2 separate regions of the Homo sapiens genome follow, and region 1 is linked to region 2. The links come from fine-mapping of genetic effects on gene expression. A gene starts in region 2. The other region holds a variant in brackets. All regions are shown on one strand. Distances are from middle to middle. Region 1 has its middle 31 kb from the start of JRKL. Region 2 holds the start of CCDC82 (coiled-coil domain containing 82).

What was found. PIP is the estimated chance that this variant, and not a neighbour inherited with it, causes the effect. A credible set is the group of variants that fine-mapping cannot tell apart.
Region 1: its variant is the best candidate, but not a certain one, in a credible set for the expression of CCDC82 in spinal cord (GTEx, PIP 0.90).

The regions. Positions count from the first base shown.
Region 1 is chr11:96,417,933-96,423,320 of GRCh38, reverse strand. No RefSeq gene overlaps it. Among named protein-coding and RNA genes, the nearest start is that of JRKL, 31 kb to the right of the region's middle. The variant T/G (reference allele first, on the strand shown) is at 3,293.
Region 2 is chr11:96,386,958-96,392,345 of GRCh38, reverse strand. CCDC82 (coiled-coil domain containing 82) reads left to right here and starts at 2,434. Exons shown (of 10, transcript NM_024725.4): 1 at 2,434-2,502; 2 at 4,733-4,816. JRKL (JRK like) reads right to left here and starts at 2,333. Exons shown (of 2, transcript NM_001261833.2): 1 at 2,273-2,333; 2 at 1-1,863. The coding sequence starts at 1,696. The coding sequence ends at 122. RefSeq lists a silencer at 2,261-2,520.

The DNA of each region.
Region 1 (5,388 bases), 31 kb before region 2:
CGACATAAGTCCTTTCCATTGATTTTGGGATTTTATCTACAGCAAATAAATGAAGTACATGGTATTCTTTATTATTCTTCCTCTTGGACTCCATTGAACAAAAAGATAATTATAAGTCTCATCTACAAATTCTTTAATTCATCTTTCCTAAAAACTAACAGAAGCCAAAATCTGTAAACCTGTTATCATTTTATTAGAAACTCAAACAAGTGGGGATCTATTGTCACGGATGTTTTAAGAATTTAAGTCTCACAACAAACCATTCCATCTTATGAATTAGATAAAGAGAGTTCTGGTGAAGATTCATTGCAAAAAACTGTGATTATTCACTGAAATTGCAATCTGTATTGAGATAAGAGGTTGATTTTACCATAGTGATAATTAGCTTATCACCTCACTAACGTAGTTCAAATAAACCAAACAAATATAACAATTACGCAGATTTTCTTAAAACTAGAGAAATTGCTAAATGTCACTTAAAGTTGTCAAAATTAATTTTACAGATAAAAAGAAAATGGTTAAACAAGTTATAACACAATTCAAAATTTCAATTAGCCTAGATTGATGGATACACTGATCTAAAAACATAGAAAAGTAGTGTTGCTTGGAAATACAGTGTTTAGATTTACCAAAATTTTTAATAGTGGTAGATTCTAGACCTGGGATAAGAGTACACATGAATGACATGGTAAGGAAGAATAACACAATAGAAGAGCTAGACAGAATTTTAAGAAATACCTTCATTTTAATGAAAAGGCAGGGGGAGAGGAGTCTATGAAGGAAAACAAGAAAGAATAGACAGACGAGTGTTGTTAAGGCATTTAAGAACGTCCACCATTACTTCTTCCATCTCACTGTAATCACTACACTTGGTCTAGACTTAAAATTGAAGGACTATAAGCAAATCAGAATCAGTGTGCCAGGCATAGTTTCTCTTCCTAGAAAGGTTATATGACATATGGCTAATAACACCAAATTGAAAATAAGCACAAAATATAGCCTTTTTGAGCAGCCCTTTTGCATCATCTTTTTGCAGCATAGTTAATAAATCATTTTAAATGGACAGAAGAGGAAAAGGTCAATCTGTTGTCCCAAGTGCAGAAATGGCCACAAATGTCTACGAAATTCAATACAAAAGGTCATTGAAAGAGAATCACATTATCTGTCTTGTTAAATTTGTTAACAAATTCTTATTAAATTTGGGTTGACTTTCTAGATTATATAATTGGGTATATTTTGATGGCCAAATATACTTCTTTGAAACTAGAGGAATCAAATAAAAGGCTTATATGCCAATAACCATCATACCCAGTGTAAAAGCAAGATCCCTAAGGGTTGGAACAGTGCCTAACATATAGTAAATTAGGCAATCCTTGGTGTTCTCAGGGGATTGGTTCCAGGACCCCTTCAGATGCCAAATTCTACAGATGTTCAAGTCCATCATACAAAATAGCTGTTATATTTGCATATAACCTATGCACATCCTATCATATACTTTAAATCATGTCTAGATTACTTATAATACCTATACTTTAATAGATTACTTATAATACCTAATGCATGAATGAAAGCTTCTGAAAGCATTTGTATTGCTCTTTGGTAATTTGCTCTGTCCCCATACCTTCAATGTGAAGGAATCATGGAGTCTCAAAGTTGAAAAGAGCATCTCATCAAACAGCCCATATGGTCTAGCCAATTGGCTGTCTAATCAATCTTTTAACTCTACTAGTGATGGAAACTCAATACTTCTGGAGGAAGTCCATTATGTGGCAACAACTCTAGTGTCAAGTTGACCCTTTTATTGAGTCACAAACTAATTCTCTGTTGTCAGTTGATCCATAGAGAAATAAACAAAACATATTTGTTGTGTGTTACCATGGGCTAAAAGCAATATATACCATGGGCTAAAAGCAATATATATGTCCACTGCTAAATTCTAAGTACCTAGAGCAGTGTCTGCCATATTTAAGGCTTCTGTAAATATTCACTAAATGTTATGTTATTATGAATATCCACTTAATTCATTATTGCCATTAGACTATTTACATACCTTTTTTTTTTAACATTGACTCCCACAAACCACATTCTTCCTCTCTTTACACTTTGCAGTTTGGCAGATATGGATGAAAGGAAATCACCAAACAGCCAAACAGTCATTTTAATAAACTTTATCTTGTTAGAGGATGGAATGTATAACAGTCATACTTGCATTTTTAAGTACTATTTTTTGTGTATGTTATTAAGTGTTAAGGATTAGAAAAAAGGTATTCTAATCTAGTAAATAGAAAATAAATGCCCTGTGTGTCTACCTTTATTTTAAAGCATTTTTATTTCAACTTCTATTATATATATGTGTGTGTGTGTGTGTGTGTGTGTTCATTTTTAATTATTGGGGTACACAGTTGTATATATATTTATGGGGTATATGGGATATTTTGATACAGGTATACAATGTGTAATCATTACATCAGGGTAAACGAGGCATTTAACACCTCAAGCATTTATCCTTTGTGTTAGAATTAAATTATTTTAAAATGTACAGTTAAATTATTATTGAATATAGTCACCCAGTTGTTTTATCAAATACTAAATCTTATTCATTCTTTCTATTTTTTATACCCACTAACCATTCTCCCTTCCCCCTGCCTCACCCATTTCCCAGCCTCTGGTAACCATCATTCTACTCTTGGTGTCCATGAGTTCAACTGCTTTCATTTTTAGCTCCAACAAATAAGGGAGAACATGCAATGTTTGTCTTTCTATCCCTGGCTTGTTTCACTTAACACAATCACTTCCAGTTTTGTCCATGTTGTTGCAAATGACAAGATCTCATTCTATTTTATGGCTGAATAGTACTCCTTTGTGTATACATACCGCATTTTCTTTATCCATTCATCTGTTGACAGACACTTTAGTTGCTTTCAAATCTTAGGTATTGTAAATAGTGCCACAATACACATGGGAGTGCAGCTATATCTTTGATACACTGATTTTTTTTTCTTTTTGTTTTATGCCTAGCAGTGGGATTACTGGATCATATGGTAGTCTATTTTGGGACTTTTTCAAGGAACTTCCAAACTGTTCTCCATAGTGGTTGTACGAATTTACATTCCCATTAACAGTGTATGAGAGTTCCCTTTTCTCCACGTCCTCACCAGCATCTGTTATTACCTGTCTTTTGGATAAAAGCCATTTTAACTGGGGTGAGATGATATCTCATTGTAGTTGTGATTTGCATTTCTCTGATGATCAGTGATGTTGAGCACATTTTCATATACCTGTTTGCCACTTG[T/G]GTGTCTTCTGTTGAGAAACATCTATTCAAATCTTTTGCTCATTTTTAATCAGGTTATTCAATTTTTTTCCTATAGAGTGGTTTGAGCTCCTTATATCCTCTGGTTATCAATCCCTTGTCAGATGGAGAGTTTACAAGTATTTTCTCCCTTTGTGTGGGTTTTCTCTTCACTTTGTTGATTGTTTCCTTTGCTATGCCAAAGCTTTTTAATTCGATGTGATCACATTTATCCATTTTTGCTTTGGTTGCCTGTGTTTATGGGGTATTACTCAAGAAATGTTTGCCTAATCCAATGACCTGGAGAGTTTCCCCAAAGTTTTCTTTAAGTAGTTTTATAGTTTGAGGTCTTAGATTGAACTCTTTCATTTTGATTTCATTTTTGTATTTGGCAAGAGATAGGGGTCCAGTTTCCTTCTGCTATGTATGATGGATATCCAGATTTCCCAGCACTGTTTGTTAAAGAGACTGTCCTTTCCCCAGTGTATATTTTTGGCACCTTTATCAAAAATGATTGCTCTGTAGATGTATGCATTTGTTTTTTGGTCCTCAATTCTATTCCATTGGTCTATGTGTCTGTTTTTATGCCAGTACCACGCTGTTTTGGTTACTATAGCTCTGTAGAATAATTTGAAGTCAAGTAATGTGAGTTGTATGAACATTTTAACAATTTTGATTCTTCTAGTCTATTAAAATGAATATCTTTCTATTTTGTGTGTGTGTCGTCTTCAATTTCTTGCATCAATGTTTTATACTTTTCTTTGTAGCTGTATTAGTCCATTCTCACACTGCTATGAAGAAATACCCCCAACTGGGTAATTTATAAAGGAAAGAGGTTTAATTGACTCACAGTTCCACATTGCTGGGGAGGCCTCAGAAAACTTACAATCATGGTGGAAGACAAAGGATAAGCAGGCACCTTCTTTACAGGGAAGCAGGACGGAGTAAGTACAAGCAGGGGAAATGCCAGGCGCTTATAAAACCATCAGATCTTGTGAGACTCACTCACTATCACAAAAACAGTGTAGGGGAAACCACCCCCATCATCCAATTACCTCCACCTGGTCCTGCCCTTGACATGTGGGAATTATGGGGATTACAATTCAAGGTGAGATGTGGGTGAGCACACAGAGCCAGACCATATCTGTAGTGATTTTTCACTTCTTTGGTTAAGTTAATTCCTGTGTATTTTTTTGTAGTACTGTAAATGGTACTACTTTCTTTTTTTCTTTTTCAGCTTGTTCACTGTTGGCATATAGAAATACTACTGATTTTGGTATGTTGAGTTTGTATCCTGCAACTTGATTGAATTTGTTTATCAGTTCTAATAGGTTTTTGGTCAAGTCTTTAGGTTTTTCCAAATATAAGATCACATCATCTGGAAACAAGGATAATTTTACTGTTTCCTTTACAATTTGGATGTCATTTATTTCTTTCCCATGTCTGACTACTCTACCGCGGACTTCCAGTTGAATTACAGTGGTAAACGTGGGCATCCTTGTCATGTTCCAGATCTTAGCAGAAAGTCTTTCAGTTTTCCCTCAGTCAGTATAATATTAGCTGCGGGTCTGTCATAGCTTTTATTACTTTGTGGTACAGTCCTTATATACCCAGTTTTTGAGGCTTTTTATCATTAATGGATGTTGAATTTAATCAAACGCTTTCTCAGTATCAGTTGAAATGATCACATGGTTTTTGTCCTTCATTCTGTTATATGCTGTATCACATTGATTGTTTTGTGTATGTTGAACCATCTTTGCATCCCTGGGATAAATCTCCCTTGGTCATGATTAATGGTCTTTTTAACTGGTGATCTTTTTAGTTGCTGAATTCAGTTTGCTGGTATCTTGTTGAGGATTTTTGCATCAATGTTCATCAGGGATATTGGCTTGTAGTTTTCTTTTTTTGATGTATCTTTGTTTGGTTTCAATACAGGGTAATATGAGCTTCATATAATGAGTTCAAAAGTATTCCCTTATCTATTTTTTTGGAATAGTTTGGTGGGATTAGTATTACTTCTTCTTTAAATGTTTGGTATTATTCAGCAGTGAAGCCTTTGGGTCCCAGAATTTTCTTTGCTGGGAGATTTGTTTAAATTA
Region 2 (5,388 bases):
ACATTTTGTGCCTGTATTTCACAGGACCAAGTCTGAGAATTCAGAACACAAAGAAAATTAAGCCATATTGCAAAGAGTTTGTCACAAACACAATGAGCAGAACAATAAAATTGAAATGACATTATTGACTTGACTTTGTCATCTTCTGTTTATTTCTGATGGTGGCTCGAAGTTTACGTATTACCAGTCTATCAGGTAGAATCATATCACCTTGTTGTTCTAGATAATCCAATAAATTTTCAGTCCACTGGAGGGCAGCTGCATGATTAATATGTTTCTCTGGAATTAGTTCTATTTCCTCCTCCTCATTTTCACTGGATTCATCTGCCTGGCCTTGTGCTCTTCTGATGATTTCGCTATCAGTTAACACTTCATAGCCTGGTTCAGTACTGTCTACTTCAAGCCATTTTTCAAGGTTCTCAGTAGTCACATTTTCCAATCCTTTGGTGTGTTGTAAAATGGCAGCCACAGTAGCCACAGAAATATCTTCAACATCAAAGTCCAGGCTCTCTTTCTCCTCTACCATAGGGAGAATCTTCTTCCATGCTCTGCTAATGGTAACTGGTTTTACTAAGTTCCATGCCATTGCTATTTCATAAAGTGCATCCAACAGAGTTAGCTTCTTCCAGAATGATTTCAGGTCATTACCTTCTTCCAAGTTGTTCTGGAGAAGACCTGCACGATAATTTCTCTTCATCGTTGCTATGACTCCCTGATCTGAAGGCTGAATCAATGAGGCCACATTAGGTGGTAAATATTTAGCAAATATTTGGCCATCATCTGACCTTAGGACATTTTCATTTGGATGTGTTGGTGAATTATCCAACAAGAGCACAGCCTTTTCCTGCAAGCCTTTAGATCTTAAATACTCTCGAACTTGCGGCACAAAAATTTTATCAAACCATTGTCGGAAAATGGAAAGATCCATCCATGCACCTTTTTGGCTGAAATAAGAGACTGGCAGGTTTAAGGTGTCAGTTGATTTAAAGGAGCGAGGTTTCTTTGCTTTCCCCACAACACAAAGTTTAAGTTTGTGTAAACCTGTTGCATTGGCACAACACATGATTGTGACTCTTTCTTCAATTGATTTGTGCCCAGGGACAGTGCATTTACCTTTGATTACTGAAATCCTAGAAGGCAAGCACTTCCAAAAGAGTCCAGTTTCATCTGCATTGTAGATTTGTTCAGGCTGTAAATTCTCTCGTTCAATAAAATCTCGAAAGTTATTACAAAAATCTTCCACCGCAGTCTCATCTCCATTTAATCTTTCATTTCTAATGTTAATCTCTCTAATGCTGTGCCGCTGCTTAAAACGAGTTAGCCAACCGGCAGAGGGGTTAAAATCACCATCCATTCCCAAAGCATAAAAGAAGAACTCTGCCCTTTTTGCACAAATTGGTCCAGATATGGGATTCCCTTTTGCTCTTTGCTGGTTGAACCATTCCAGCATTGCCCTGTCCAATTCCTCATACATGGATGGCTTCATAGATTTCCTCTTGGCCAAAAGACTTGTGGAATCAGAACTGCTTGCATAAGTTATAATCTTTTCCTTATTTTTTCTTATATCCCGAACTGTTGTTTCACCAATTCCATAAATCACTGCCAGTTGTTTGGAAGAACCTCCGTCTTCAAGTTTCTTTATTATATCAAGCTTATCTTTAATAGTCAACACCACACGCTTCCGTTTCCCTGACATAGCGAGGTTCTGGGACTCACCCCACACTCACAATGTAGCAATCCACAAAATCCTTCCTTCTCTTACACAGGCTCACTTCAACAGTCTTAACACACTCAGTCTTTCATCCTTACCAGCAACCTGGTGGCCCTGATCCCCTCCCGGGCTGGGGTTGGCTGGCAAATAGACTGCAGAAGAAGGTGAAAGAGGAGGAAGTTTGAGAGAACAGGCCTTTCTTTAACTTATACGGGCAGTAGCGGAGGCCCCATGTCACCGCGGATAATCCGGATTAAAAGCATGTGTTTTATTACCCCAGCAGCCGTGAGAAAGACTATACCCCCATTGTGGCCACGAACCTCCTGCACGTCCAGATCCCGGGTAACCGCGCGTCACTAACCCCTGCCACACCCCAAAGTTACGACAGAGAGCCGAAGAGCCTAGGAGTCAAGGACTGGCACCCTTCCTCAGGGGAACGGATATATTAGATTCCTTCCCCAGCAGCAGGGCCCTCCCGCCGCGCAGCCCCAGTTTCCCGCGCCAGCTTTAGCCGGGACAGTCCTCCCAGTCCCTCAAAACCCGCCAGGCCCCTCTCCCCACCTCTCTTGCAACCAGGACCCGCACAGCTCCCTGACTATCGCGCGGCAGTCGCTCCGCCCCTAGCCACGCTCCCGGAAGATGATCCCTCCCGCCGCCTGGCCCCACCCCTCGCCCCACCCAGAGGCGGGACTTCCCTTGGTCCCCGGAAGGGGGGGAGGAGCATCGCTTGTCCTGAGCTGGTTGCCGGGGCAGGGGCGGAGGCGGAGGCAGAGGTGGAGGCGCTTTGAAAGGTGAGAGCGCGAGGGCGGTGCGGGGCTGTCTCCCGGCTGGGACTCGCTCGCGCTCCCGGTGCTAATGGTTTATGAGAGGGGCGGGGGAAGCCGTGCCTCCTCGCGGACTAAGAGAAAAATTCCCGCGGGCGCTCTTTGGGTGGGCCGGAGAACGCCCCTCAGCCCTTTGCGCCTCTAACCCTCCTCAGCTGAGCTGCAGTGGGCGCGGTGCCCGTTATTTCCGCCTTGGGGAGGTGCTTGGAACTGATGTAGGGAGCTCGGTTGGTGATTTCTCGGGTTTCTGGCCTTTCCAGACCCTTGTAATTGTTTTCTCGGTGCAGAGCTCTTTTGGGGTCTGGGGGTTTCCGTCGTCCTGCGCGCGTCATCGCGAAGCTTGGCCTGAGGGTCCGGTTTCCTAGCTACTGTGCCCCTCCCTCCTGGAGGCAGAGTGACGGACTAGTGGGCTAGCGGGCGCTGGGTTCCTGCGTCCCGCCAAAGAGGTTTGTAATCATGAAAGTCACCCTTCCGGGTGTTAATTCCTGAGAGGATCTATTCCACTGTCTACCACTCATTCCTGCTGCATTAACCTTCATTGTTAACGGATTTTAATGAATAATATAGTTATCCCGGATACCATGCTGGCAGGATCCACTTTGCGAAATTGTGGACTGTTGGACTGTGATTCTAAGTGGGGGAAATAGGCTTTCCTCTCTTTATGTTTATTTTCTTATATCCTATTTCTGTCATGTTCTGTCTTGTTTTCCTGCCAATAGAAGAACTATGATAAATTTATTCATAGCAGTGTGATAAGAACTTGATCTTAATCATACACTGTAGCCCTCAAATCGTGTATTATGCTGGCTTGTTTTTGGTGTCCCTAGTAATTTCATCAGATTGTGAGCTCCTTGGGAGCAGAGACCATGTTTATTTGAAATGGTGGCAGCACAGTTCCTAGCAGGTGCTTGCATTTTGGTAGATATTCAATAATTATTTTTCGGCTTATTAATCTTTGCTCTCCAAACTGCCATATAAAAGAAAACATCGAAGAGGAGTGATGTTTTACACCCAAGAATGGATCCCTCCTGGTAGAATTTCAAATAATGACCTGGGGTTCCACTGCCTTTCAAATCTGTAAAGTGTTAACTACCACCTGCATTGTTTATACAGCAAGTAGGTGATTTCTAGAATGAATCTTTTCTTGAGTATGAATTAACCTCAAAGTTTAGAAGGAACTATATTTCTTCTGATGAGAAAGTCAAATGGCATCATCAAAGTACTTTTAGCTATAGAGTTACTGTGTTAGAGAAAGAACACAAGCAATATGGATTATTGTCTTTAATATATATTCTTTGGCAGATAACATAGCTATGTATGTGCATCTTATATTAACCATGAAACACAAAGATGTGATAGTATTGATCATCTTCATTCACTTATTTAATGCTTTCTGTTTGGAGTCTCTGTTTTTCTCTTTGCTTAAAGGTAAGGTATCATTACAGAAGCTCGATAAAATTCTCATTTCAGGAAATTAAGTGTATATTCAACATATACAGAAGTAACATTCATTTGCATGGATTCTCTTTTGAGTAGATTCTGAAGACCAAGAGGTATCTTACCCATCAAACTAGCTTTCCTTCACATTTCTCTTCCGAGGTTCACTCACCTTTTCCCTCCGTTATCATTCTTCCCTTCCCAGCTAATATAGTAAAGCTACCTACAATTTAAAAAGAAGAGCCAAACATATTCAAAGTGTCTTTCCTTTTCAGTAACAGAATTTTTTACCTTACTGATATAAATGGTCATTTTGAAATATGAGAGACCCTGGCAATTTGGCAGTTGGTCCAATGAAACCTGATTTATTTTGTTTAAATAAAAGATGCTGCCTCAGGCATTCAAATTCTGCAGTTTTCCAAAATATGTTTCTCATCAGAGACTGCCTTTCTTTGAAATTTTACTTTTGGGCTCACTGGGGACTCCTTTAAATTTTGCAATTGGTGTTATTAATAAGATGATAAGAGGGAAGTCTGCAAATACTCTTTTCTTGCCTGGTGGATAATAATTTACAGAAGTTTCTGGCCTAACTCGTGCAGTAAAATTCGGTTACATAATTTTTTAAAAAAGCATATTTGTAAACTCTAAACCATTTTAATCGTTATTTTTCTGAAACTAAAATACAGCATGAATGAGAGATAAAAATAATGATTTTTAAAGGCTTAATTTTTACTATCTTGTACAAATGTGATATTGGCAGCCGTCATTGTGTGGCACTGGACGGGGAATCAAGAGACCCGGTTTCTAATCCCTGCTCTGTCACTAACAAGCTGCGTGATCTTCGGTAAGTCATTTAAACTCTATGTCCTTGGCTTTGATATTTACACATAAAAATAGATATCTTCCTTCTAGGATCATTGTCAGGATTTAAAAATCAATGTGAAAATGCACTAAAAACTTAAAGTTTCTTTTATGGCTTAACTGTGCAGTCATAAGTTTTTAATAGTGTGATTCTTAATCATTTCCACCATTGTCATAGGAATCACCTGTTTCATGATAAATAACTGACATTCTGGGCATGTTATAGTTTTGTAAGATAATCATCTAGTGTATATGAATTTGCTTTTGGGTACTAATAAAAATCATCGTTAACTTTAATGTTCTTTACTGTCCATATTTGCTTTAGTGTATCTACTGCAACCATATTTGTCATTGTTTTCATAAATGTTTTTTCATTATTTCTCCCAATTCAAACAGGTTTATTAGAAAGCCATGCTTTGTTATTACAATGTGATATACTACACGTGCACATATGCACACTTAGCTTACGCAAATTTATGTGTTTACAAATACTTTTTTGTACTATACAGCTTAAAAATGTAAGATGCCTAGTTCGTGTGGTGCTAAACCAAAGAA